Linked DNA regions of Homo sapiens: all the other regions are linked to region 1. Evidence: fine-mapped expression QTL. A gene starts in region 1. Each other region holds a variant in brackets. All regions are shown on one strand. Distances are from middle to middle.

Region 1 (5,000 bases):
GGAAGAAAAGAAGGAAGAAAGGAGGGAAGGGAGAAAATAGGAAGGAGCACTGCTTAAAGGTAAGAAAATGGCCTAATTAGACCAGTTAGTAACCACTTAGTTAAATGCTATAATTAAGCTTTTACCCTAGCAAGGAACTTTCTAAGTGATCACAAATGATAACTAAGTCATATAATATCTGCACTGAAGGGACATCTTACCTAATTCTGTCATTTGACAGGTGTAGCAAAGAAATTATAATTATACAATGCTTTACAGTTTACAAAGTGTGTTCAAAATGTCACATCATCTGTCCTTCAAATACTCCTGAAATAGGCTCATATGCCCCATTTTAAGGATCAGGAAATTGAGGGTTACAGAGATAGTAATGTGCCTTAATAATAATGTCTATGATTTATCAAATGTTTACTATGTGCCAGACTCGGGGATAAGCACAATCTTGCGAAAATTATCCCTATTTTATAGATAGAAGGTGAAGGGGCCGGGCGCGGTGGTGACTCACACCTGTAATCCCAGCACTTTGGGTGGCAAAGGCAGGCAGATCACTTGAGCCCGGGAGTTCCAGACCAGCCTGGGCAACATGGCCAAACCCCGTATGACGGGGGGGGGGGGGGGCAATTAGCCGGGCGTGGTGGCACACACCTGTAGTCCCAGATACTTGGGAGGCTGAGGTAGGGGGATGGCTTGAGCCCAGGAGGCAGAGGTTGCAGTGAGCCGAGATAACGCCACTGCACTACAGCCTGGGCAGCAGAGTGAGACCCTATCTCAAAACAAAAATAAAAAAAAGGAGAGAAAAGAGAAAGTGAAGGGTAGCCAGGCACAGTGGCTCACGCCTGTAATCTCAGCACTTAGGGCGGCCAAGACAGGAGGATCACTTGAAACCACGAGTTGGAGACCAGCCTGAGCAACATAGCAAGACTCTGGCTCTACAAAAAATAAAAAAATTAGCCAGGGTTCGTGGTGTGAGCCTGCAGTCCCAGTTGCTCGGGAGACTGAGGCAGGAGGATCGCTTGAGCCCAGGAGTTCGAGGCTGAAGTGAGCTATGATCGCATCACTGCACTCCAGCCCGGGCGACAGAGCAAGTTCCCGTCTCTTTAAAAAAAAAAAAAGAAAAGAAGGAAGGAATGTAGGTAGGTTAGGTGACTTGCTCGAGATCATACAGCTAAGTCACTGCTCTGATTCTAAGCCATACACTTAAAACAGAAGTCTTGAGTTACCTATAATTCAACTTCACAGAGCCCTTTAGTAGAGTTGGCTTATTATCCAGTCCCATGTTCTCTCTTTTAAGAGTTAGTAAGTCTGACAGCCATTATGAGGGTCTACAAGCAAAAGCACTAGCCCAATCATACCCAAAAACTCATGTTGGCGGAGAGCCCATGCCTCAGATGAAAGGCGTGAATAACTAGAGTGGAGCGGACAAAGCTAACAAGTCTTATAATGTACACATTAAGAAGCAGAATAAACTTCAGAGTAAATACGCAGAATAAACTTCAGAATTCAGAGTAAACACTCTCTCCCGGAGCAGCAAGGATAACAACATCACGATATCAACAATTCCAGCACCTTACACTCCTGTAACCTAGCGCAATTTCCGGAGAGCCTTCAGGTTCATCTCAACGGATCCTCGCAAAAACCTGTGGCCTGGGCTGAGCAGAGCGGGAAATCAGTCTCACTTTACACAGGAAGCCGAAAGGAACGCCGAAGAAGGCCGAGTGGGCAGAAAAGCACGAGATTAAGAGATAGGGGCAGCCACCTGGGGAGACTGGGCGCCTCCACTGACTGGAGGAAGAACGCAGGGCCCGCTGCGGGGACAAGGCCCAGAGAGGCCGTGGTGCTGGGTCCGTCGCCCGCTGAGGCTCAGGGGCCTTGGAGGTCGGCCCAGGCGCCTATCTACTCACGTTGGACCAGCTGGTCTCCTGAGAAGACGGAGGAGCAGCTGGTGACTAACGCACAGGGTACGCCAGCAGCCATAGCTGCGCTCGCGAGCCGGTTCCGTCAGGCAGCCGCTTCCGCCTTGGGCTGCACCACGGCCGCCGGCGCGAGGGGGAGACAGGCCGGAGAGGGCGTTCTCGGAATGACCAGGCTGGCCTGACCCCGCCCCTAGACCCCCTTCCGCTCCCAGCGTGGAACAGGCCAGGTCGCGCGCGGTGTTGCCATGGGGACGAGCGGCTCCGGCTGAAGGTTTCCGTGCTTGGAAACCGCGCCTCCGCGGAGGTAGCCGTTCCCTGACCTAGCCATGGCACAGAACACTGAAAACCACGACCCTGTCGGATCCATCTTAATCCAGGTGGGAAACGGGCTTCCCCCGGCCCTGCCCTGCCCAGCCGCGCCACTTCCGAGCGAGGTCCCGCGCGCCGATTCACCGACGCTCACCCATTTGGTGCGCCGCCCCTAGACTCCCTCCAACTCGCGAGAGGCTCCCAAAAATGCCCACCCAGACCTTCCCCCACGGCCCAGCACACTCCCGGTGACTTACCCTGTAGGTTACGCCCCAGAAGCAGGACTTTCTGCCTCTGGGAAAACTCTAAAACCGTTCACCCGGAACCTTTACTTCAGAAAAATTAACCTCACGCTGAGGCATCATTTTTAAATGTTATATTCTGAAAAATTTGAACCCATGACGTCGGGAGTGGAGGAGAGACAAATCGGACACTCTAGGAGGTGATAAGAAATTTGGAGACAAATTGAAATATGTGAATTGCTTTTCTTAAACACCCCAGTTTTTTAGATCTAAATGTTCCTCATTGGAGAACACACAGAAAAATCAAGATAACTTGGAATGAAAAAATGTGACATTTAAAAACTTAGTGAAAGACCTTTTTAATTTGAGAGGGGAAATGTCAAGAAAGTCTTGTCCAATACAGCTCAATTTGTAATAGTTGCACTCAGATGTTTCTGAAATGATCATGGCATTTTGTTTTCACATTTATGTGAGGTAACTTTAAGATATTTCCACATATATCATCGGTTTTAACTATCACATATATAATAGCTGCATTTGACTAAGTCTTGAAGTCATTTGTCTAAGGTCACTCTGTCAGGACTGTCACTCAGTTGGTCTGAAGTGGGTCTTACTCGTCAAAGGGATCTAATTTTTCTGGCAGAATTTTGATCTCTTACCTCCCATCTAGGAGAGACTTCCCTAAATGTACCTTTTCCCAAATACAAGCCCCTGAACTCACCAATTTCATAGACTTCCCCATTAAGAATCATACCTAATCTTACCTGATCTTTTCTCACCCTCACTTTCACCATCACGCAGCAATGAGTTTAGCCAAACTGCGAAGTCTGAGGGAACGGTCCACAAAAAACTGCCCTAACTTCAACACTCACTACCTGCAAGTTCAGGGGTCCCCAGAACCACCTCACTTCAGACCAGCTGGGTACAAACTTAGGGGCCCCATCACCACCCTCACATTCAATGATTCACTAGAACTATTCGCAGAGCTCAGGGAAGTGCTGTGCTCACATCTCCAATTTTATTATAGTGAAGGCATACAAATTAATCAGCCAAGGAAAGAGATGAATAGGACAGAGTCCAGGAGGGGTACAAACATAGAGCTTTTGGTCATCTTATCCCTGTGGAGTCATTGACGTCATTACCTGCATTACTTCCTCCCAGCCATGATATGTGACAATATGCATAGAATATTGCAACTAGAGAAGCTTATCTGAGGCTTTGATGTCCAGAGTTTTTACTGGGGCTCAATCTCACACTGCCCTTGTGGTTGACCATTAATCTCCAGCCCCTCCTGAATACTTTTAGTTTCCCGCTGCTCCAGAGGTCTGAGCTGATACAGCGTGGATCAAAACACCCATTATAAATCATGTTGATAGACTGTCTGGTGGCCAAAGCCCACAGACAAAGACACTTCTATCAGGCAGGACATCCCAGGCGCCTAGAGATCACCTCCCAGTAGCCAGGAGCGAAGACTGGACCCCTCTTTGGGTAAGGTTAATTCTTTGCTGCACATACCCACTCTTTTTATAGATTCCAAATAATTAGAACAATAATGGAGACTCTTACCTAGGATACAACATTATAGTAATAGATAACTGTTGACACTGACTTGTGAGATGGGTCAGAAGAGCTAATAGTCATATCCATGTTGATCTGCACCCCTACTTATTTAAAAGGATTCCTGTGGACATATCAAGTAAAGGGCTGTGTAGAGGAAGAGAGCCTACCTGTTAACCAGATTATTAAGACTGATTCCTGTATAGTATAAAATTCTATTCTCTACATGTAGAATATGTATAGTGAGGAAATTTGGAAGACTTTCCCTACTTTCTCAGTGAATCCTGAGAATGTGTGAGTATGTAGCACCACCCAACTGTGCCAACGTGGATTCCACTTCTATTTGGGGCTATGATTTATTTCCCTCAGACAGGCTACCAATAATTAGTGTGTCTAGTGGAAAGCACTTGATAGGGAGTCAGAATACTGAGATCTGACCATGACTTTGACAGTCTCACAAGTAGTGACTTTGAGTTAGGCACTCATCTCTCTGGACCTCACTTTCCTCTTCCATAGGACATATAGTTTGGATTAGGTTCACTTCTGACTTTAAATTGTCCCAATTTCCCCAGGCTACATCATTTACTGTAAAAGTAGACTTCCTTTGTTGTTAGCCTAGGCAATCAAATTGTTTCTGGCAAGTCAGTGACTGAGTGAGTGTGTGTGTGCAATAGACTGTAAAGCAGAGGTACTTTAAATTTCTACTTGCTTCACCCTAATATGGTCAGTTACGTCTGTGTATCAGTCAGATATATTAAACAGCTTTTTAGACCAGTGGTTCTCAAAGGTGTTGTAAGTATTATTTTTTAGCTCCAGTTTACAGAAGACACTTAGGTACAAAGAAGTAAAGCATCTTGCCCATTGTAATACATCCAGTATGTATTGATCCTTAAATAGGCTATGGCATGTTCATGAAGTAATCTTGAAGAAGTGTGATAGTGACTCTGGGAAGTTTCCAATCATGCTTTGTAAATCTTAGAAG
Region 2 (5,207 bases), 680 kb after region 1:
TGGGGGCAGGGGAGTCATTGCCTATGGTGCATGCAGTAGATGCTCTGCTAATACTGTACTCTTTAGGGTAAGTGGAGGGTAGAGAAAGGTTTCTCAGTTCTGCCTTAATTCAAGAGTGCCCCAGGCAATAAACTGTTGCTTGTTCTTATAGAATGGCAGTTGCTTTGGACAAATGTTTTGGAAGATTTTTGGAACTCCAGAGTACTGCAGAGAGTACTTTCAGACAAGGTTGTCGATTGGAAAAGAAACTGAAAAGGGCCTGGACCAGGCTGGGCTGGACACATAATATATCCACAATATCCTGGACTGAACTTGAGCCATTGTGTATTTATGTAATTGTCCTGCTGTTGGCAAAGGGCAAGTCCAAGCCTGAGGAGTGGGGTAGATTCCACTGAAGAAATGTTCCCATGCCAGTCATCTTGGGAGGAAGTTTGTCCTGGGGTAGAAATTGAGAACTCAAGATGTGGACCTTTGGGGTGAGAAAGAAGTGTGTTCTCTCTCTCTCTCTCTCTCTCTCTCTCAACAAAGTTGGGTCTGCCCTACAAGGGAAGACATGTTCCAGGCAACCTGAGAGAAGGAGCTGGGCTGGACCCTGCTGATGGGGAACAAGCTGGGGCTGAACAGCTAGGTGGTCCTATGAGATTATCTGGGTACCAACCTGGGCTCTGATAAAATCCACATTGGTCACTGTGTTGAGTATGTATTTCTTTGTATTTTATTCTTCTTCCATGGTGCCCAAATTTAATCAGCTCCTGCTAGACACTGCATCTGGTTTCTGTTGAGTATGATGCACTGAGGGGAAGGCTCTGGCCATGCTTGGGGCTGAGTGGCCACCATACCTGGCCTGAACATTTTAATAGAACTTTTCACTTTACAAAACAATATCCCACTCAGAATGCTGGGCTCGGTGCAGGGACAGACAAGCTCAGCAGTGTGGGAAATCGCAGCAGGTGTGCAGACTAAGGAAGCTGGAGGGGGAGAACATAAGGGCAAGTTCTGGGGCAGTGGTAACTTAGCACCTGGGGCCTCTCCAAAATAGCTAGGGATGGTCCTGCAGGGACTGAGTTCCTATGTGGGCCAGTAGGGTTCAAAGGAAATTGTAGCTTGAGCATTAAATGGAGATAAGGCAGTTTATTTTCATTGGCTGGGGAGGCCTGAACATAGTTGTTCTATTAGATGTTGTGGTAGTAAAAATAGATAACAGCAATAATCTAGTATGTCAACATGTGAGGTTTTTTTGTTTTTTTGAGACAGGATCTTGCTCTGTTGCCCAGGCTTGAGTGCAGTGGTGCATTACAGCTCACATAATGCTTGAACTCCAAGGCTAAAAGCAATCCTCTCACCTCAGCCTCCTGAGTAGCTGGGACTACAAGTGTGCCCCATCATGCCCGGCTAATTTTTGTGTTTTTTGTACAGATGGGATCTCATAATGTTGCCTAAACTGGTCTTGAACTCCTGGGCTCAAGTGATCCTCCTACCTCTGCCTCCCAAAGTGCTGTGATTACAAGTGTGAGCCACCATGTCTGGCCTCAACATTTTAATAGAACGTTTCACTTTTACAAAACAGTTTCCTATATATCCATTTCTAGTTGATCCTCAAAATAATCTTATATGTAGAACAGGCATTAGATTGCTAATTGTTCTTATTAGTTACAAGGTTAAACTATATGAAATTGCCATATTAATAAGTCAAACACTGTTAAATGTAAGCAACTTTGTATGGTTTATCCTCATTACATAAATCATAACTATTATAAATAACAATAATAGTGTCTTAGTCCATTTTGTGTTGCTGTAACAGAATACCATAGACTGGGTAATTTATTTTAAAAAGAGATTTATTTCTTACAGTTCTAGAGGCTGGGAAGTCTAAGATCAAGGGACTTGCATCTGGCAAGGGCCTTCATGCTGTGTCATCCTGTGGCAGAAGATGGAAGGGCAAGAGAGCCTGAGAGAGCAAGAGGGGACGAAGGCCAAACTCATTCCTTTTATCAAAAAACAAACTCCTGAGATCATGAACCCACTCCTTCAATAGTGGCATTAATCCATTCATGAGGGCAGAGCCCACATGACATATCACCTCTTTTTCTTTTTTTCCTGGAGACATGACTCACTGTGTTGCCCAGACTGAAGTGCGGCGGTGCAATCATAGCTCACTGCAGGCTTGACCTCCCAGGCTCAAGTGATCCTCCCACCTCCTTAGTAGCTGGGACTTCAGGCATGCACCAGCACACCCAGCTGTTTTTTTTTAAATTATTTTTTGTAGATACAGGGTCTCCATATGTTGCCTAGGCTGGTCTTGAACTCCCAGGCTCTCAAGCAGTCCTCCCACCT[T/C]GGCCTCCCAAAGTGCTGGAATTACAGGCATGAGCTATCATGCCTGGCCACTAATCACCTCTTAAAGGTCTAACCTCTCAAAACTGCTGCATTGGGGATTGAGTTTTCAACACATGAACTTTGAGGGACACATTCAAGCCATATCATGTAGGAACTTAAAAAATATGTACCTGGCATATTGCTAAGCTCTCTTCACACATTTTATCTCATTCAGAGATGCATATTCTAGTGGATATAGCAATGTTCCTTTCAGATTCCTCTTCAGAGCCCACACACTCATTCCCAGCTGCTGGGAATATTGGCTACTTCCCTCACTGGGAATTGCCCTTGGCCACAAGTCACTGCTTCCACCAAGGTGATGCCCAGACCCCAAGGGTAGTCATTAGGCTGTGACTGGCTGACGTGAGGATATAAAGCCTGGGCCCCTTGCCTCAATTTGGGACCCTCTGAAGGGCCATGTGGCTCAGAGCTCCCTGTAGGATTGGCTCTTCCTGGTTGCAACCACATTGGGGGTCATCTTCTCCCTCTTCTCAATCCTGCCCTCTCACTTACGTACAGGTGTATCTCCCAAAATTACTGCCTAAGAAACCTTCTGCAGACAGAAACCACCTCCATCTCAGAGTCTGCTTCCAGGGAACCCAAACTTAGGACAGTTGGTGTCAGAGGGGTTCAAGGTGGCAGACTCTAAAGTGGGAGTTTGGAGAGGGATCACTTGCTAGTCAGCTCTCCATGAACTGGTATAGGAGTGGTAAGGATAGTCCCTGCCATGCTGTAACTGCATGATGGCTAAAACTTGCATTTCTGGTGAACTGGGGCGTGATGGGATGCAGAAAATGCTGCTTCAAATAATAACACCTTGGAAATTGAGAAAATAGTAGAAACAGGAAGGCTACTCTCACCTTCCCCTCTACCTTCTTCCCTGAAGCAAGGCCATAAAACTTAGGAAGGTGACAATCTGACCTTCTCCCACCCTTCTCTCCTGAAAACCCTCAGGTGACAGGTGTCCTGCCCTATACCTTGAGGGAATGTCACACAAGAACGGACAAGAGTCTAAACAAAGAGGCCTTGTGAAGATCCCCCTCTGCAGTTTATCACTATTAGATCATCTCCCCTTTGTCCCATTAGACTTCTGCAGGACTGTTCATTCTTCATCAAAGCCAAGCATAAGGATACACAGGTTTCCCTGTTTCTTTGAGTCTTCATTTCTGAAGGCTCCTGTGTCATGTAAAACTAATATTAAATACATATGTATGCTTTTCTCTTGTTAACCTGTCTTTTGCTACAGAGTCTCAGCCAAGAACCTAGCAATGAGTAGGAAGATAAATCTTTTCTCCCCTACATATGGTATATGGGTGGAAGGGGTCACACTCATTGGTGTAGTATCTCTGGCAACTGGGGGCCGTAGTGACTATAAGGACTATGGAAATGAATGACCATTGCTGAGTCCATTTACTTGCTAAAGAGACTTAATGATAGCCTCAGAGTGAATAATCACCAAGGTAAAATGTTAAAGCCAGATGGCCTCCTGGGCAACTGTTAAGGAAATCCCTCCTGCAAAGGGAGGATCAGGCATAGGATTTAATGTTAAAAATAGCAGAGCTTTGGAGAAGGTTTGATTTTTCAGCCCTGACAGGCCTCCAATGCCAGGGTCAGAGCCATAATAGGTGAGGACTGGGAACCTGAGACTTGGGTTGGGGATATATGAGTAGATGCAGTCAAGCACCTTGAATTCTCAGGTCCTTCTGAACCCACTGGGTTTGCAGAAGTGACACACTTCTTGTTGGCAAACAGTGGTGCCCCTTATTTGAAGATTGCACTAGTCTGTTCTCACATTGCTATAAAGAACTACCCAAGACTGGGTAATTTACGAAGAAAAGAGGTTTAATTGGCTCACAGTTCCACAGGCTGTACAGGTCTGGGAGGCCTCAGGAAACTTACAATCATGGCAGAAGGTGAAGGGGAAGCTGGCATGTCCTACATGACTGGAGCAGGAAGAAGAAAAAGACGGGGGAGGTGCTACACACTGTCAACCAGAACTCGTGAGAACTCACTCACTATCATGAGAACAGTAAGGGGAAATCTGCCCCCATGATCAAATCACCTCCCATTAGGCTCCTTCCCTAACACTGGGGATTACAATTCAACATGAGATTTGGGTGGGGATGCAGAGCCAAACTATATCAAAGATCATACAAGGTTTCCAGTGAGGCAGGTGCCCTACATGAGAATGCTTGTCCTCCTCAGAACCCAACTTTACTTCCTTCCTGGCGATCTAATAAAAGTTAAATCCCAGCTGTGCTGAGCATGCTAAGGGAGGAGAGGCACTATATGCTGCAGGAGCCACAGGATCTAGCTAATACATTTAAGCAAGCACTGTGCACAGAACAGGGTCCTGAGTAGGCTGGATCAAGAGGGGAGGAAGGTAAAGGTGGATAAGAGCAGGTGTTAATATGGGAGTACTCTCCATGATACAGAACTTAACACTCTGGCAAGGAACCCAGGGTAAGGGGGTGAACACACTTCAGAGATGGATTTTAGAAGCTTAGGAAAAGCAATGGTTCACACTAAGTAAAGTAGAAATATTAGAACTGCTGTGGCAGATAGGAGTTCAAGTCTTGGAGAAGTAGTCCAGGTATGGTGGCTCATGTCTGTAATCTCAGCACTTTGGGAGGCTGAGGTGGGCGGATCACTTGAGGACAGGAGTTGGAGACCAGCCTGGACAACATGGCAAAACCCGTCTCTACTAAAAAATACAAAAAAAAATTAGCCAGGTGGGGTGGCCTGTACCTGTAACCCCAACTACTCAGGAGTTTGAGGCAAGAGAATCACTTGAACCTGGGCCAGATTGTGCCACTGCACTCCAGTCTGGGCAA
Region 3 (5,000 bases), 70 kb before region 1:
TTCTAGGAAAGGGACCTGATGTCTAGGGGGTTGGGGAGGGTAGGGAACGGCTCTGCAGAGACCTCATTGTCAGTGACAGACAGCCACCACTACCAGACCTGTTGTTCCCATTTCGCTTTTTGTTTTTTACTTCAAAAAAGATACTTATTCTGGGTGGCATACCACTGTTTGATTGATTGATTGATTTAGAGATAGGGTCTTGCTATGTTGCCCAGGCCCAGTCGCAAACTCTTGGGCTCAAGCTATCCTCCCATCTCAGCCTCCTGATTAGCTGGGACAATAGGCATATACCACTGCAACTGGCTTTTTTCTATATTTTATTAAAAAAAAAAAAAAATATATATATATATATATATATATATATATATTTTTTTTTTTTTTTTTTTTGGAGCGGGGAGACCAAGTCTCGCTCTTGTCTCCCAGGCTGGAGTGCGATGGCACAATCTTGGCTCACTGCAACCTCCACCTCCCAGGTTCAAGTGATTCTCCTGCTTCAGCCTCCTGAGTAGCTGGGATTACAGGCATGTGCCACCACACCTGGCTAATTTTTTGTATTTTTAGTAGATATGGGGATTCACCACGTTGGCCAGGCTAGTCTCGAACTCCTGACCTCAGGTGATCTGCCCGCCTCAGCCTCCCAAGGTACTGGGATTACAGGTGTGAGCCACCATGCCCGGCCTATTTTTTTAAGTTACTGAAACGAAACAAACATTTTTGGTCTGGGTCTTCGCATCCCCACCTCTGCCTTCTGCTCTTACTGACATGATACAGTTGTGGACAGCCAGGAAGTCATCCCTCCTGTGGACTCTGAGCCACCAGCACCCTGCAGAACTAAAGCCAGAAAAAATGGGGAGTGGTTGGAGGAAGGGGACAGTAGTGGGAATAGGAGGCAGGACAGGGGACATCCAGTGATGCATGGGTCGGTCACCTCGTGTTCATCCTACCGGATGCTGGGCCTGTAATATCTGGCTCCGTGTTCTGACCTCTGAGCTTCTTCCCCAGGAATGGAGCAGAGACTTTGCCATGCAGGAGAAGGGACCATCCCCTGGCCGAGCAAAGAGCTCATTGTCAGAGTTTACGCAACTGTTTGAGTTGCAGAGCCAATTTAAAAATAATTTCTGTCCATCTGGAGTGGATTTAAGAGATGAAAGAAAAGTAAATGATATAAACCTCTGGAATGTTTTAGAAAAATGCATTGAGGGAAGAAAAAAATAAGGGCATAGCGTTAAACCATCCCTGCAATAAAGGGCTCCTTGGGGTGTCTGCTGCATCAGAAGGAGCCCTGCAGGTTTACTGAATGAATCTCTGAATCTTGGAGTGTGAAGAGACCAAATAATAGTGGGGTAGTAGTAGCAGTAGCAGCAAGAAAAGCTGACACCAGGCACTTACTGTGTGTCTCACAGTAATCCTGCAAGGGTAGAGGTTATCATCATTCCCTTTTTTTTTTTTTTTTTGGAGTTAGGGTCTCACTCTGTCTCCCAGGCTGGAGTGCAGTGGTGTGATGGGAGCTCACGGCAGTCTTGAACCCCTGGGCTCAAGCAATCCACTCACCTCAGCCTCCCAAGCAGCTAGGACTACAAGGATATGCCACTATGCCCAGTTAATTAAAAAAAAAATGTTTTTGTAGAGATGAAGTCTCATTACATTGCCCAGGCTGGCCTTGAACTCCTGGCCTCAAGTGATCCTCCCACCTTGCCCTCCTAAAGCTCTGGGATTATTGGTGTGAGCCACCGCGCCTGGCCCCCATCCCTATCGTAGAGACAAACGAAGACTCAGAGGGTGAATAACTTGACTGAGGCCCATGCCTACTCAGTGGCAAAGGCTGTCACTGAGACCTATCCTGTGTGCCCATCTCTTGTCATCTGCCTCCCTTGGCTTTAGGAATCCGGCAGTGCCCATTTCCCCTACTTTAGGCTTGGGCTTTGGGGCCCGTTTGCCTGGGGAAGCTGGCAGTCACTGGGAGCAGCTCTGCTGTTCTGCCTCCTTTGCGAGCCTCAGGTGGCCCCAGGGCCATTGTGTGTGAGCAAAGGCACCCTGTCCAGTCTAACCTGAATCTCTGTAGGAAGAGGCGTGCGGCTCTACTACATCGGAGGGGAGGTCTTCGCAGAGTGCCTCAGTGACAGCGCTATTTTTGTCCAGTCTCCCAACTGTAACCAGCGCTATGGCTGGCACCCGGCCACCGTCTGCAAGATCCCACCAGGTAAACGAGCCGCACAGGCACCCCTGCCTTGAGGTCCCTCTCCGAGTGCATGCCTAGGATGCTGGAGAGAGTCCACCTTTCTCACCTTTTCTGCTCACTCATGATTGCGTTGTCAATCTGGAGGTGATTGGATTAGGTTTTCTCTATGCCCACAGATCTAACTGTGCTTTCCCTGAACTTCCAGGGAGCAGATGTAGCATCTGATAGGTCTGCCTTTAACCTGTGGGTACCTGCCTGTTGCCCTGTGCGTAGATGCTCAGGCAGTATGGCTTCCTTTCTTCACTCATTCATTGCACAAACAGCATGCAGGGCTCTGTGCCAGGTGCTGTAGGGGATGAAGAGGTAGATGCGGCCCTGCTCTGCCCC[C/T]GCAGACCTTACAGGCCTGCAGAGCACAGAAGACAAAGACACGGATGAGTTCAATATAAGGGACGGGTGCCAAGCACCAAGCCAGCAGCCCAGGTAGAGAGAAGGCCCATTTAGCTGTTGGGATGGATCAGGGAAGTCTTCATGGAGGAGAAACATCCGGATCCTGAAGGATAGGTAGGCACTAGGCACAGGGAGGGCATTCTAGACAGGGGGAGCAGCCCAGGCAAAGGGCCTGAGGTAATGGAGGGCAGGACATGGATGGGTAGCTCTCTGGCTGGAGGAGGGTCATGTATGAGACCGTCAGGGGAAATGTTTCAAAAGCACAACAGCATGAGGCCGTGGAAGGACACCAGAGAGTTTGACTCTAGGGAACTGCTGAGGGTTTTCTGAGTGAGCCTGAAAAATCCCACCTGTACCCCAAGAAGAGGTGTCAGGCTGCACCCCCGAGAGTGGTTTGGACAGGGCCACGCCTGGACAGCAAGATCAGGCAGGTGGCTGATCCCATCTAAGGCCTCTTTCCTCAGGAAACCAAGGCAGAAAGCCCCAGCCAAAGTCCACTTTTCACAGGACGTGCAGCCACTGTGTAGGCAGCCCACAGAACATGGCCTGTGACAGACTAGTGGAGCAGGTAACCTGGCCAGGCCATTGCCTGTGGCACGTGTGTGGCATGCCCCTTCCTGCCCACTGAGTAGCAGATGGTAGTGGAGAAGTGGTAGACCACAGGCAGGGGAAACTTTAGAATGCAGAAAGTCTGAAATGATAATAGCACACCAGGTTTCCAGAGCATTTTGTGGTTGCATTTATAGAGTACATTCCGATCGTTGACCTCATTTAGTCCTCACCAGTTATTCTCTGGCTCTATAAGTAAGGAGACGCTTTGAGAGACAAGTTCAGAGAGTTTCAGCCACCTGCCCAAGCGCACACAGCTAGTAAGTGGCCAAGCCGGGATGGGGCCTAGGGCTGATGGACTCTCAAGTTTGGTGCTCTTCTGCTTCTTGGCTCTGCTGGGGGTCAGGGCCCAGGTTCAGCCCTGTTCCACCACCCTTGTCCTTGGAGAGAATGAAGAAGAGGAAGCTCAGTGACGCTCTTGGCCTTCTGCCTCTTCCATTCCCCGGCCCCACCCCCATCTTTTGGGTGAGGGCTGAGTTGGCTGTGGTGTTGTTTGTCAGCTCATAGAATGTCAGAGCTGGAAGGACCTCTGAGGCCAGCCCTTCATTATACAGAGACACAGGGTCCCCAAGAGAAAGCGACCAGCTCAGAGTCACACAGCAAGAACAGGAGCCTGCTGTTGGCTCATTCATAAGCGTCACCCCGGCTCACCTTTTGGCTATTTCCAGCATGTGCTTTTGTCTTTATTTTTCTGGTTGACACATTCCTGGCACTCAGGCAGTAAGACTTCAAACGACATTTATTTTAAACTTTATTTGTGACTGTCTTTAGTTTTACTGTCTGGAGAATCAGATGCACACCTTCACTTAGCTGTGAATGTCACCTCCACCCAGCCCAGTGCCCAGAGGCCAAAATTTGGCCCAGATCTCTCCTTACCTCCTAGCCCCAGCACCAGGTGTATTCATCAGAGGAGCCCAGGTGGAGGGTGCACTGGGCCCTCTGCCAAGCTTCCTGTGGGGACGGCAGGCCCAGTAGCCTTTCGGCCAGCCCGTCTCTGGGGGCACTGCCTGCTGTGGAACGGCCAGAGCTCCTGTTCCTAGGTGGGTGACCAGACCCCACACAGCATGGGCAACCTGGCCCAGGTCCCTTATCTCTCTGTCCCCTGGTCCCTTTGCCCAAGGAAAGGCCCCCCTCTCCACACCATCTCCCTATTTTTGGAAGCCCTCTTTGCAGACTTCTCCCTGCTCTGGGAGTCGGAGCTTGTGGGCCAGCCTTCCATCTCCCCTTGCAGGTATGTCAGTGGCACCTCCCAGTGAGGAGATGGGTTCAAGGGGAGGGACTGGGTTGGCCTTCCCTTTGCATGGTACTGAGTGTGGAGTGTGTGGCAAATGCATCACACACCATGTGTCCCTGGAGCTGTATAAATGAGGCTGGTCTAGGGGGTCCAGGACTTGCTTTATCCAGGAGGGGAGCAACGGACCTGGCCACTTCCATCCCCACAGCCCTGTTTCTGTGTTTTTGGCAGGATGCAACCTGAAGATCTTCAACAACCAGGAGTTCGCTGCCCTCCTGGCCCAGTCGGTCAACCAGGGCTTTGAGGCTGTCTACCAGTTGACCCGAATGTGCACCATCCGCATGAGCTTCGTCAAAGGCTGGGGAGCGGAGTACAGGTCAGTTATGGGTGCTGCCTACATCAGGGGACCCAACTCCAGGTGACTCTGGACAGCAGAGCAGGCAGGGCTCCTCAGAGATGAGCTAGGCCAGCCCTAGCGTCAAGAGCAGAAAGACCAAAGATCAGAGAGAGGCCAAGGCCTGGCAGGCAGGA
Region 4 (5,000 bases), 79 kb before region 1:
GCCAGGTGCCCAGGGAGAAAGTCCAGAAGAGGGAGGAATAGTATATGCCAAGGAGGAAAGTGTGGATGGAGTGGGGAGACATGGGAGAGGTTGTGCCATGTGTGAGCGGGCCCTTGAAGGACAGATGGGACCCTGTGAGGCAGAGAAGGATGGAAGGACATTGCAGGTCCAAGGGCATTATGTGGTCTGAGGACAGCTGGCATGGTGGTTGGTTGTTGTCTCAAGAGGGACAAGGTGGGAAAAGGAGGCTGAAATGGCAGGTGGGGCACTGGGAAAAGACCCCTGAGTGTCTGCTTAGCGCCCTCTTGCCTATAGAATAAAGTTGTTTGTGGGTTTTGATTGGGGAGGTTTTCTGATGACAGCTTCATAAAGATTAATCTGGCCACTGTGTGGAATCTAAATTCTAGGGGAAATTACTGGAGGCAAAACAAAACAAAACAAAACAAAAACCCACTTAGACAGCTCTTCCTCTGGAGGAGGCTGAGATAAATGCTTTCGAGAAATGGTAGCAGAGCTGGGAGAATGCATTTGAGAGGGAATCATGGGCCTGAATGAGCAGGGTTTGTTGACCAGCGTTAAGTGGGATGATGGTGATGCCCCCATCGAGGCTGGACACCCAGGAAGTGGAATGGGTTGGGGGTGAAAGATGGTGGTGGGTTGCCTGTGCTTAACTATGTCCAGGAAGCAGTTGGAAAGTCAGGAAAGCGGCTGGCGCTGGAGGCGCAGATTTGGAAACCATGAACACATGTGGCAGCCTTTCCCATAGCGGGGCCTGAGAGAAGGGGTTTGGTGGTTGAATGAGTGTGGAAAGCCTGTATTGTGGCCTCTCCTCCAGCCCCCACTCAGGAGGGACTCACATGGCCACGCTCTGAGGAGCCTGCAGAAGGAGGCCTGTCTGACCCAGCCTTCCTCCCATGCACTGATCACTGTTCCTGTACTTCTGTCTTACCGCCCCATTACCCATCCATAGATCTGACTCTGGAAACACCGATGAAGTTTGGCTGAAGTCATGCCAGTGGATGGATTTAGTGGAGAGGCCGACCCAGCTCAAGATGGAAAGACAGCCAGAGATGCGCTCGGGTGGTGGGGGTTCCTTGGAGAAGGCTGAGGTCAGGGGGATGATGGGGTCACAGCAGCTCAGAGGGGAGGCAAGCCCTGAAGGACAGTGGCTACAAGCGGGCCCTGCAGAGATGCAAAATGAGATTTAAGAAGAGGCCTTGGATTTGGCATCAGGGTTTCAAGGGGGAGCTTTTAGGGAGCAGTGTGTAGGAGGGGAGGGGCTGCAGTCAGTCAGCAGTGCACTGAAGGGCAAGTACCAGGTGGGGAGGTGGAGGCACCCAGCAGCGCAGCCTTTGTGCTGACTCACAGTCAGTGCGTCCCAAACCCTAGGATGGAGGCAAGCACACAGGGAGCTCTTCCTAGGAAAAAATGGGGACATCTCAGGACATCTGATTATTTCCTTTAAAGAGATTATTATGAAATTACTGTACAAAAAGAAAGAAAGCAGAGGACATCTGGTTTCTCCTTTCATTTCCTCCCCACTCCAGGTGTTAGCCCCAGGGCTCAGGTCTGGGGAAGGTTGAGCCTCCTTGCCCCAGCAAAGCCACTTCTGGTAAGGGGCAGGGACTCCTGGTTGAGACCTGGCTCAGCATCCTGCCCCAGGCAGGCTCTCGGAGACCCTGGGACCTGGGACCGTTGTTTGCAGGGCAGGAGATATGAGCAGGTGATGTTCCTGTTATTACACAGCGTGCTGGGTGAGTCACCGGGAATTTCCTAGGCATTTAAGGCGGAAGGATTGGGGTAAATGGAGGGGAAGGAGGAGGCAGGTGGAGAGAGGAAAAAGGTAGTGAGCTGGCTTCTGCCTGGTGAGTAAGTTGTTCCCTGCTTTAAAGTGAGATGATTAGGGCGGAGCCATGACTGAGGAAAATAATGTACCAGGGAGAGCCCTGAGGGAGCAGTTGAGCTGGAGTTAAAGGAGGTGATGGCTTCCAGAGTGCCAGTGGCAGGAGTGAGAGGCAGGGATGGGGCAGCTTGGAGTGAGAGGGATAGGGCAGCTTGGAGGTGGCTGATGCCGGATGCAGTGCTTCAGACTGAAAGGTGGTCGTTTGCTGTGAATTGCCCTCTAGATTGTGTAGACTAGGATGATGGGATGTTTCTTGAGCTTGGACCCAAGGCAGCATCTCCTGTTGACATAGTTCTCCCTCCCTACTGACGCTTCCTCAGGCACCTTGCCTGAGAGTTGAGAATTCTTAGGTTATTTCTTCCAAAGGGAGGACCCTCCCCCCAGGGTGCCACTTTGCACTGGCCTAGTTGCACCTCTGCTGGGAAGGTGTGAATCGGGGGCAAGTTGCCCCGTGAGTCAGGGTTAGGATTCTGGGTGAGACTCCACGCTGACAGGCCCGGCTTCCCCTCTGCTTCATGAGCCCCTGTGCCCATGTGTGAGCACAGGTGTGGTGGCAGGGCGGCCCGAAGACCACCAGCCCTGAGTGTGGACGGCGGCCCAGGGCAGAGGCCCAACCCAGTTCCAGGCATCTTCATGCTGCTGCCCAAGGCTCTTTTACAATGCAGCCTCTGGCTCCGGTCTTCCCCACACTTGTGAAATCACAGGCAGGGTCTTCCCCACACTTGTGAAATCACAGGC[A/G]GGCAACATAATGACAGGAAGTCAGCTGTCGGCTCTGTCTTCATACTCCTGAGGGCCCGGTTTTTAGACTTTGCCACTGTTCCTGGTTGCAGTATGCTGGTCATAAGCTAAAAGGGCATGGGGGTCTCTGTGCAGCTTGGTTTGGTATTTTAGTCCGCAGATACATAGGTTGGAATTAGTACCCTGGGTGCTGGGACACAGCTGGCGTGGGCTCACAGAGACCTCATCCTCTAGCATAGGAGACTCAGGTACACAGTTTCTGGGACACAAGGTTAATTCTGCACTGAGGCAGTGAGGGAGTGTTTCACAGCCGTGTGAGCTGGGCCTTAAAGATCGAGTCCCTGCAGAGGAGGGGGATGGGCAGTCCAGGCAGAGGACCCAGGCAGGACTGAGAAGTGGTGGATGAGGAACATGGGAACTGGAGTGTGGAATCTCCTAGATTGAGGAAGAGCTGCCTTCCGCAGGTGAGGTGGGCCCAGCAGAAACCAGCCCATTTCTGTTTTGACCTTTCGTCTTGCAGCAGCAGTGCTCCTGGCCTTTGCCCGTTCCTTGCTTTCGATTTATAGGAGAAAGTTAATTTCCCCCCTTGCCTCCCCACCTCTTCCTTTACGGGATTTGAATCTCTTGCACATGTTTTTAATAGGCATCCCTTAATCCAAGTGTTGCCTTCTGGGTTTTATTCTGTTTTCTTTTTCTTAAACATAATGGAACGTCTGTGCCAGCTTGGAACAGGACTGAAAACTGAGGCCAGCCAATGCGTTAGGCTGGCAGGGGGCCAGCCATGGATTAAGTGCCCTATGGCACTTGAGAAGTCTGGCCGACACCACACTGGTGGGGGAGGGGGATCCACAAAGGCTGGAGCTGGAGGTTCCTGCGTCTCCAACACCTCTGCACTGGGAGGAGAGATTAGCACAGACTCAGAAATCTGGCCAGGAGCAGGGCTGTTTGAAGGGAAGGCCGTGGGCACGTGCCATCGTCTACCACCCCAGCTGTGCAAAATGCTCAGCCTAGAGGTGAAACTGCTCTTCAATGGGGTGTGTCACCTTACCCCCCGTAGTCATTCTCCTAGAGGAGCCTTCTATAGAACTGCTTCTGCATTTGTTGGTAAATCCTTGAAACCAGATCTTAATTTGCTTGCTTGCTTGATCAGTTGATTGATTGGTCAGGGGAGGGGTTGCCACCTCCCCCTGAGAGATTTCTTTTAAGATTTAATGCCAGGACAAACTTTGTTTTCCCTGAGGAACTAGTAAGCATTGCCCATCCACCAACCAGAGCCATAGACCATGTCATGTTCCCTTTTTGTCTTGTCTACTAGGAAGCTCAGAGCCAAACTGGATGCTTTTGCAGTAACTATAACCTCATGGTTATCCCATTTATAGCCGCCTTCTTTCCAGAGTCCTTTTTGTTTCTCTGGTACTAACCAGGGTAAGGATAAGTACTTTGGGAAAGAAATGAGGGCATATTTAGTGTTTTGGGTTTTTTTTTTTTTGGTGTGTGGCAGAGTCTTGCTCTATCCCCCAGGCTGGAGTGCAGTGGCGTGATCTTGGCTCACTGCAACCTCTGCCTCCTGGGTTCAAGTGATTCTCCTGCCTCAGCCTCCAGAGTAGCTGGGATTACAGGCACCCGTCACCACACCCAGCTAATTTTTGTATTTTTAGTAGAGACGGGGTTTCGCCAGGTTGGCCAGGCTGGTCTCGAAATCCTGACCTCAAGTGATCTGCCTGCCTTGGCCTCCCAAAGTGCTTGGGATTACAGGTATGAACCACTGCATATGGTCTGTTTTTTTGTTTTTTTTTTTGTTAAGGAAAAATGTGCCATTGAAGGCAGAACCCACAGGTGGTGACCATACTTTCTGGTCTGCCACTCCTCTTGCACAAGTTCTGGGAGGAAGCAGCTGAGGCATGGTGGGCGGGAGGGACCTAGAAAGGAGGGAAATCACGGCTGGCTTTTAGTTGTTTGCAGAGAATAGAAAGCGCATGGCTGGGGTGCTGCTCTGGCTCAGTCCCGCTTCTGAACACAGGGCAGCTTGTCCAAACAGCACTCTCTGAAATGGCAGCCTGCAGACTTTGCCACTGGCCTGATTTCACTGCTCCCTCAAACAAGCATCTTCTTAATGATGTGTCAGGTTCCTAGTGTCCGGGGTTTTCCACAACACTGTCCGGTGTGTGTCTGTGAGTTGCAGGGCTGTTTGGATAAGGGCTCAGATCTGCTTGGGAGGGCCTCTCGGCCTATGACCCCAGGCCTGTCTTTGATTCTGAGGGTCCTTGAAGCCCACCCTTCCCCAGAGCATGGTTCTAGCACCATGCGACACAATGGGTGGCCTGCCAGCTTTTTCTTTTTTTGAATGGTGGGCTGGGTT
Region 5 (5,207 bases), 550 kb after region 1:
AAGTTCTGCACACTGAGTGTCAGTTTCCTCTTCAGCACAATGGAGATGCATAGCTGTGTGTGGGCCACAGTGAGCATGGGAGCCAGTGGGCACATCAGGACAAACCTTTGGCAAATGCCTAGCACACAGCACTCCTTGTCCAAGTCAGTCCCTTGCAGAGTGGTGTAAAGCATCACGGATACAATGTGCCTCATCAGTAATACGAAGGAGATGGGGTCACCTCCCAGCTGGACTTGGTATTATTCAGTGTGCTATCTCCATCCATCTTTAAGAGTCTGGCCTTGCCAAGATGCCTAGGGCATCTGGCTGTGTGGAACTCGGGCACCTCTGGGTGGCCAAGTGAGTTTTGTGCTTCCTCCCAAATTCTCCATCAGATTTTGTTTGCTTGCTAAACTCATGAGGAATGCCTGCATTGTGCATGTCACAGGGTTAAGGGCGTCAGTTACAGTCTAGGAGGAAGGAGAGAGCCACACCTGCCAGGGTCCCAGGGGAGCCAGGCCAGCCCCGAGAATACTCCAGAATAGAAACCAGGAGACATGAGCTCAGTGCCAGCTCCTAACCCCTGTCTTCCCTCCCTGGGCCTCAGTGTCCTCTCCTCTAACATGGGGGTCATGGTGTATTTTCCCTGAATCCCATGCAGGGCTGATGGGAGGAGGGGGAGTCAGTGACTCTCCCAGTGTGTCCAGGGGACAGTGCTGATAGAGGTCAAGACCTGGGATGGTCTAGGCTTACAGCCTGCAGCCCTGGTTGCACCTCTGGCTAGGCAGGCCTGAGTCGCCAAGGTAGAAACAAGATGAGGGGGAATTGCAATCTGAATATTGATTCTCCCTCCTCTATCCAGGAAGAGCCCAGGGCAGTGGGTTTGGGTTACAGACTTGTGGTTCAGTCCCATGTCTGGGAGCTCAGGCAGGTCAGCTGTGACCCTGCAGCCTCCATCAGTAAAGTGGAGGTGATTGTGCCCACCTGTGTGAGTTAACACTTCTTTGGCTGCAAATAACAGAAACCAGCCCCAGCCTGTGAGGTGCCTCACAGGATCCTGTGACCGTGTGGACCCTGCAGGCAGAGACGCTGCCAGGCTCTGGGTGTAATGGCCCCAGGGTCTCCAGTGCCGTCACGACCCCCCGCCTGCCTGCCTCTGGACAGCACCTCCTGCTCTCGGGTCCTACACACTGGCTTTCTCTGTTGTGTCCAGTCAAATGGTGGTGAACAGCTGCCAGCAGCTACCAAGTCCACAGTGCACAGCCTAGGACGCTGGGTCCCCTCCATGTCTGTCCCCTGTGATTCTCCCTGTCAGGCAACCACCCTAAACCAATCAACAGTGGCTTGGGACAAAGGCAGTGGGTCCAGGTCGCTTCCCTTGCAGGTGGGGTAAAGTATCGGGGATACAACATGCCTCAGCAGCAGCAGGAGACGAGGTCACCTCCCAGCTGAGGAGGGCAGGAGAGGCCGGCATCTCCACCGGAGCTGAGTATGGCTGCAGCTGAGCAGCCCTCTCCCCTCGCCTACCGGGGCACTTGGGCAAACTGCCTCCCTGCAGTGCGGCCATCCGCCCTTCTGGAATGTGGAGGAACGCCTCTACGCTCCCTCCTGCAGTTCCGCTCTGCTTGTTCCAGAACAGATGATAACAGAGATGGAGCATATGGGCCCCAAAGTCACCCGGCATTCTGGGAAAGTGACACTGTGTTACCCCGGGCGTGGGGGGAGGGGCCCGTCACTCGTGAGCACAGCTTCTCCCTTTGTTCTTTAGAAGGGCACGAGGTCGCCCCTCCTGAGCCTCCTGAGAGGAAGTGTGCACGCTTGGACTTTGGGAAGGATTTCCTCTGTCTAGGCAGCGATTTGGGAAAGCAGCCGTGGGGTGGGCATATATATGGGGAGGAGAACACTTGGAAGCCAAAATCCAGTCCTTCCTGGGCCTCTCCTGCTCAGGCCCCAGACCAAACCTCTGCCATCCACAGGGCCACACCCAGCCTGGCCTCCATGGCCCCTGTGCCCTTAGGGGTCCTGCAGGTGTGTCAGGAGCCTCCCAGAGTGCTATGAGCAGATTATGGGAAGTACCCAGCTGGGCTCCAGGCCTAGCTCCACCCCAGTCTCAGCGGGTCCCTGCCCGGGGTTGAGTGCCTTGGCATCTTCGAAGCCGAGTTTCCTCCTCCTCCTCGCAGCTCTGACAGTGCTCTGTGTGCCTCTGAGATAGACCCACGCAGGGTGTCCCCAGGGCAGGTTTCCCAACCTCGAATGAGAAGGTTGGGGGCGGGCACTGCATCAGCCTAGGATGAGGCGGCCTGAGCATTCTCCTGTCCCCCACAGTTCTGACCTGTGGTCCAGAGGGG[C/A]CATGCCGTCCCCTGCTCTACCCAGGCCTGGTCCTTGACAGCCCCTGCAGGCGCTGAGGTTGGGACAGCCAGGGTCCACATCCCTCCTGGCTTTGTGATGAGCTCGTGGCGAGGCCATGCGGCTCTTTAAGCAGCCTCTCTAGGGCTGCAGTCAAGGCTGGGGTGTGCTGGGAAAGCAACCCTGAAAGCCCAGCCTGTGCAGGTGGAGGACAGGCCCAAGAGGGGCTGAGGAAGCTGGAGGGAGGAGAGAGCTGGGGGGAGCGAGGAAGCGGCCGCTGGACAGGGAGGGAGAAGAGCTGGGGGCAGGCACATGGCGCCCTCATCTCCCCCATTCTCTGTCCTCGCTATGGCTCCCCGAGTCTCACCATGCAAGCTGCACAGTTTTGGGTAGGAGAGGAAGCCACTTGGTGTAAGTTCCTGGGCAAGAAGCCACTTGGTGAAGAGGAAGAAAAAGAAGGCTTTTCACTTTTCCTTTCACCTCTGACTGTGGCCTGGTAACCCTGGGGTTGTCCCTGCTTTTTTCTGACCTTCCCTGGGAATTCCCAGGAGGCCCTAAGATTGTGGATGTAAATCTTGGTGCTTCAGGACAGCAGAGAAGAGAACTGGCTAAATAGAATCTGGTCTGCCTGTGTGATAAGTGGGTTAGAACCAGAGGCAGGCCACAGGGCAACAGGGCCGGCCCCTCCAGAGTCCAGCCCCCAATGGAACTTCTCACCAGGAACCCAGAGATCCTGTGCACAGCCCAGCACATTCCTCCCCCTCCCCACTTCCCCTGACATGTTTGCCTTCCCTCCAATTGCAGGTGGTGACTTCTTTTTATAGGAGAGCTGTAGACAAAGGAGAAAGCTAAAAGGGATTGACATAGCCTCTGACGAGATGATTCTTTGGTCTCTGGGCACCAACTGAACCGGAAAGCTGGCAACACAGTGCCAGGCCTCGGCTGACTGGCCGTGCGAGTGATGCCGGGCAGAGGAAGGGCCAGGCAGAGTGTGCAGCGAAGACAGGCCCTCGCCCTTAAGCACCTTCCAGGCTAGTGCGAGCCTCAGGAAGAGGTGGCAGAGTCTGAGATGTGCCAGCCAGCACTCCACACGCTTGGTGCTGACTACCAGTATGTCACTGCTCGTCCCTGGGCCTCAATTATCTAGGCCGTGAAATGGAGCTGATAGCCTCCCTCGTTACCTCACAGGGTTACTGGGGAAAGAGATCAGATCCAGGCTGAGGGCAGGCCCTGGAAAGTACAATGAGCGCGGGAGTCCGAGGACTGCCTGTCACAGCCTCCTCCTCTTCCCCGCAGGGCCACCCGTTCATCGTGCAGTTCAATGATGGAAATGCCGCCGTGGTGTCCATGTGGGTGTGCCGGGCGCTGGAGGAGAGGCGGAGCCAGCAGGGGCCCCCGTGAGGCTGCCGCAGGGCACTGAAAGCCCAGGACCAGTAACCAAGGAGAACAACCCACCCGTCGCCCTTCTCCGTATGCTGCCTGCGCCAGAAGAGCTTTGCTGGGCCCTGGCTTCCCTGCCCTCGCCTTCACCTCTGTCAGCAGGTGGCCTTGCCTGGGGAGCCCCATGTGTGGCCCACCCCACCAGGCCATCCCCATACCTTCTGGTTTGAAGGCGCTGACACTGGCAGAGAGGTAAAGGGTGGGGCATTGAGAATGGAGGCTCCCAGGGTCCCTGCCCACTTCTGTTTTCCTAATGTTTTTCTCTATAAAGGGTCAGGCCCGTCAGCATCACTGATGGGAATAAAAGTATTAATGCTTTGTGACAGCCTCTGCCATAAGAGTTGTGTGGTCCAGGGGGTCTGTGACCCCCCCCAGGGCTGGGGGCAGGTGGGATCTCCACTTCAGCAGGGATGTGTGTGACAGTGCCTGCTGCCTGCCCAGGCACCTGCAAGCCTCCTGCTAGCTCCTCGCAGTTGTGCTGAGGCCCACAGCCCAGCTCCACTGTCAGATGAGAAACAGAAGCACGGAGGCATTGGGATGGGTCCCATGGCAAGGAGTAGGCCCGGATCTCAGGCCCCCGCCATGAGCTCCTTACTGGACTGCCAGACACATCCACCTGACCTGCGTGGCTGAGGAGGGAGTGGGCTGTTCTGAGAGGCCCTTCTCCACCCCAGCCCCACCCCTGCTCCTCACTGCCCTTGACCCCACACCTGCCACCTCTCACCTCTCAGGAAATCCCCTCAGCCACATGCCAGGTAAGCCTGGCTACCCCCATTTTGCAGGTGAGGAGCTGAGGCTCCAAGGGGCTCAGGATTCCACTTGAAGGTCTGAATAGCATCTCAACACGTCCAGAAGCAAATTCCTAATCCCCCACCCCACCCAGACCTCCTCCTACTGCTTTCCTGTGTCAGTAAATGGCATCTCCATCCTCCCAGTGCCCAAGCCATTTGGCACTCCCTAAAATGCCAGGACATGGCTTTGACTCCCTTTTCACACCCACATCCAGTCCTGCTGTCTTTGCCTTCAAAGAATATTGGTTCCATCACCCAAAATTCTCTCTTGACTCCAGCCAGTTGGTCTTCTTGCTGCTCCTTGAACATCCGGGCACATAACCACCCAGGGTCACAGCAGAGACGTCTAGCCATGGAAGGTTCACACTCCCTCCACAGGGTACCGCGTTGCTAGGGAGCCACTGCCCAGCTGGGCTTCCATCTCATGGGTGGGATTGGTGCTATTATAAAGGGTGAGTTTGGAGCCAGGCACAATGGCTCTCGCCTGTAACCCCAACACTTTGGGAGGTCGAGGGGGGAGGATTGCTTCAGCCCGAGTTCAAGACCAGCCTTAGCCAACATAGTGAGACCCTGTCTCTAACAAAACTTAAAAAATTAGCAGGGTGTGGTGGTGCATGCCTGTGGTCCCAGCTACTTGAGAGGCTGAGGTGG

Which allele goes with the higher level. Positions count from the first base shown, and alleles are read on the strand shown. Sizes are in standard deviations (SD) of each study's normalised expression. Not every link is listed here.
As copies of T replace C in region 3, the expression in tibial nerve of the gene that starts at base 2,001 in region 1 goes up (moderate effect, 0.56 SD a copy in GTEx).

The links.
Region 2: its variant is fine-mapped to the expression of AAGAB in whole blood (TOPMed, PIP above 0.99).
Region 3: its variant is fine-mapped to the expression of AAGAB in tibial nerve (GTEx, PIP above 0.99). The same link has a PIP of 0.9 or more in lung and tibial artery.
Region 4: its variant is fine-mapped to the expression of AAGAB in whole blood (TOPMed, PIP above 0.99).
Region 5: its variant is fine-mapped to the expression of AAGAB in whole blood (INTERVAL, PIP above 0.99).

What each region holds. Positions count from the first base shown.
Region 1 is chr15:67,252,661-67,257,660 of GRCh38, forward strand. AAGAB (alpha and gamma adaptin binding protein) reads right to left here and starts at 2,001. Exons shown (of 10, transcript NM_024666.5): 1 at 1,899-2,001. The coding sequence starts at 1,971. It overlaps IQCH (IQ motif containing H), which reads left to right and starts at 2,126. Exons shown (of 21, transcript NM_001031715.3): 1 at 2,126-2,287. The coding sequence starts at 2,237. RefSeq lists an enhancer at 1,742-2,061.
Region 2 is chr15:67,929,964-67,935,170 of GRCh38, forward strand. No RefSeq gene overlaps it. Among named protein-coding and RNA genes, the nearest start is that of RNU6-1, 93 kb to the left of the region's middle. The variant T/C (reference allele first, on the strand shown) is at 2,335.
Region 3 is chr15:67,182,665-67,187,664 of GRCh38, forward strand. It overlaps SMAD3 (SMAD family member 3), which reads left to right. Exons shown (of 9, transcript NM_005902.4): 7 at 2,063-2,200; 8 at 4,701-4,845. Among named protein-coding and RNA genes, the nearest start is that of SMAD3-AS1, 38 kb to the left of the region's middle. The variant C/T (reference allele first, on the strand shown) is at 2,567.
Region 4 is chr15:67,173,306-67,178,305 of GRCh38, forward strand. All of the region lies in intron 5 of SMAD3 (SMAD family member 3), which reads left to right. Among named protein-coding and RNA genes, the nearest start is that of SMAD3-AS1, 29 kb to the left of the region's middle. RefSeq lists an enhancer at 2,748-2,797. The variant A/G (reference allele first, on the strand shown) is at 2,642.
Region 5 is chr15:67,803,025-67,808,231 of GRCh38, forward strand. It overlaps MAP2K5 (mitogen-activated protein kinase kinase 5), which reads left to right. Exons shown (of 22, transcript NM_145160.3): 22 at 3,622-4,090. The coding sequence ends at 3,726. Among named protein-coding and RNA genes, the nearest start is that of SKOR1, 20 kb to the right of the region's middle. RefSeq lists enhancers at 760-1,622, 1,623-2,483. The variant C/A (reference allele first, on the strand shown) is at 2,328.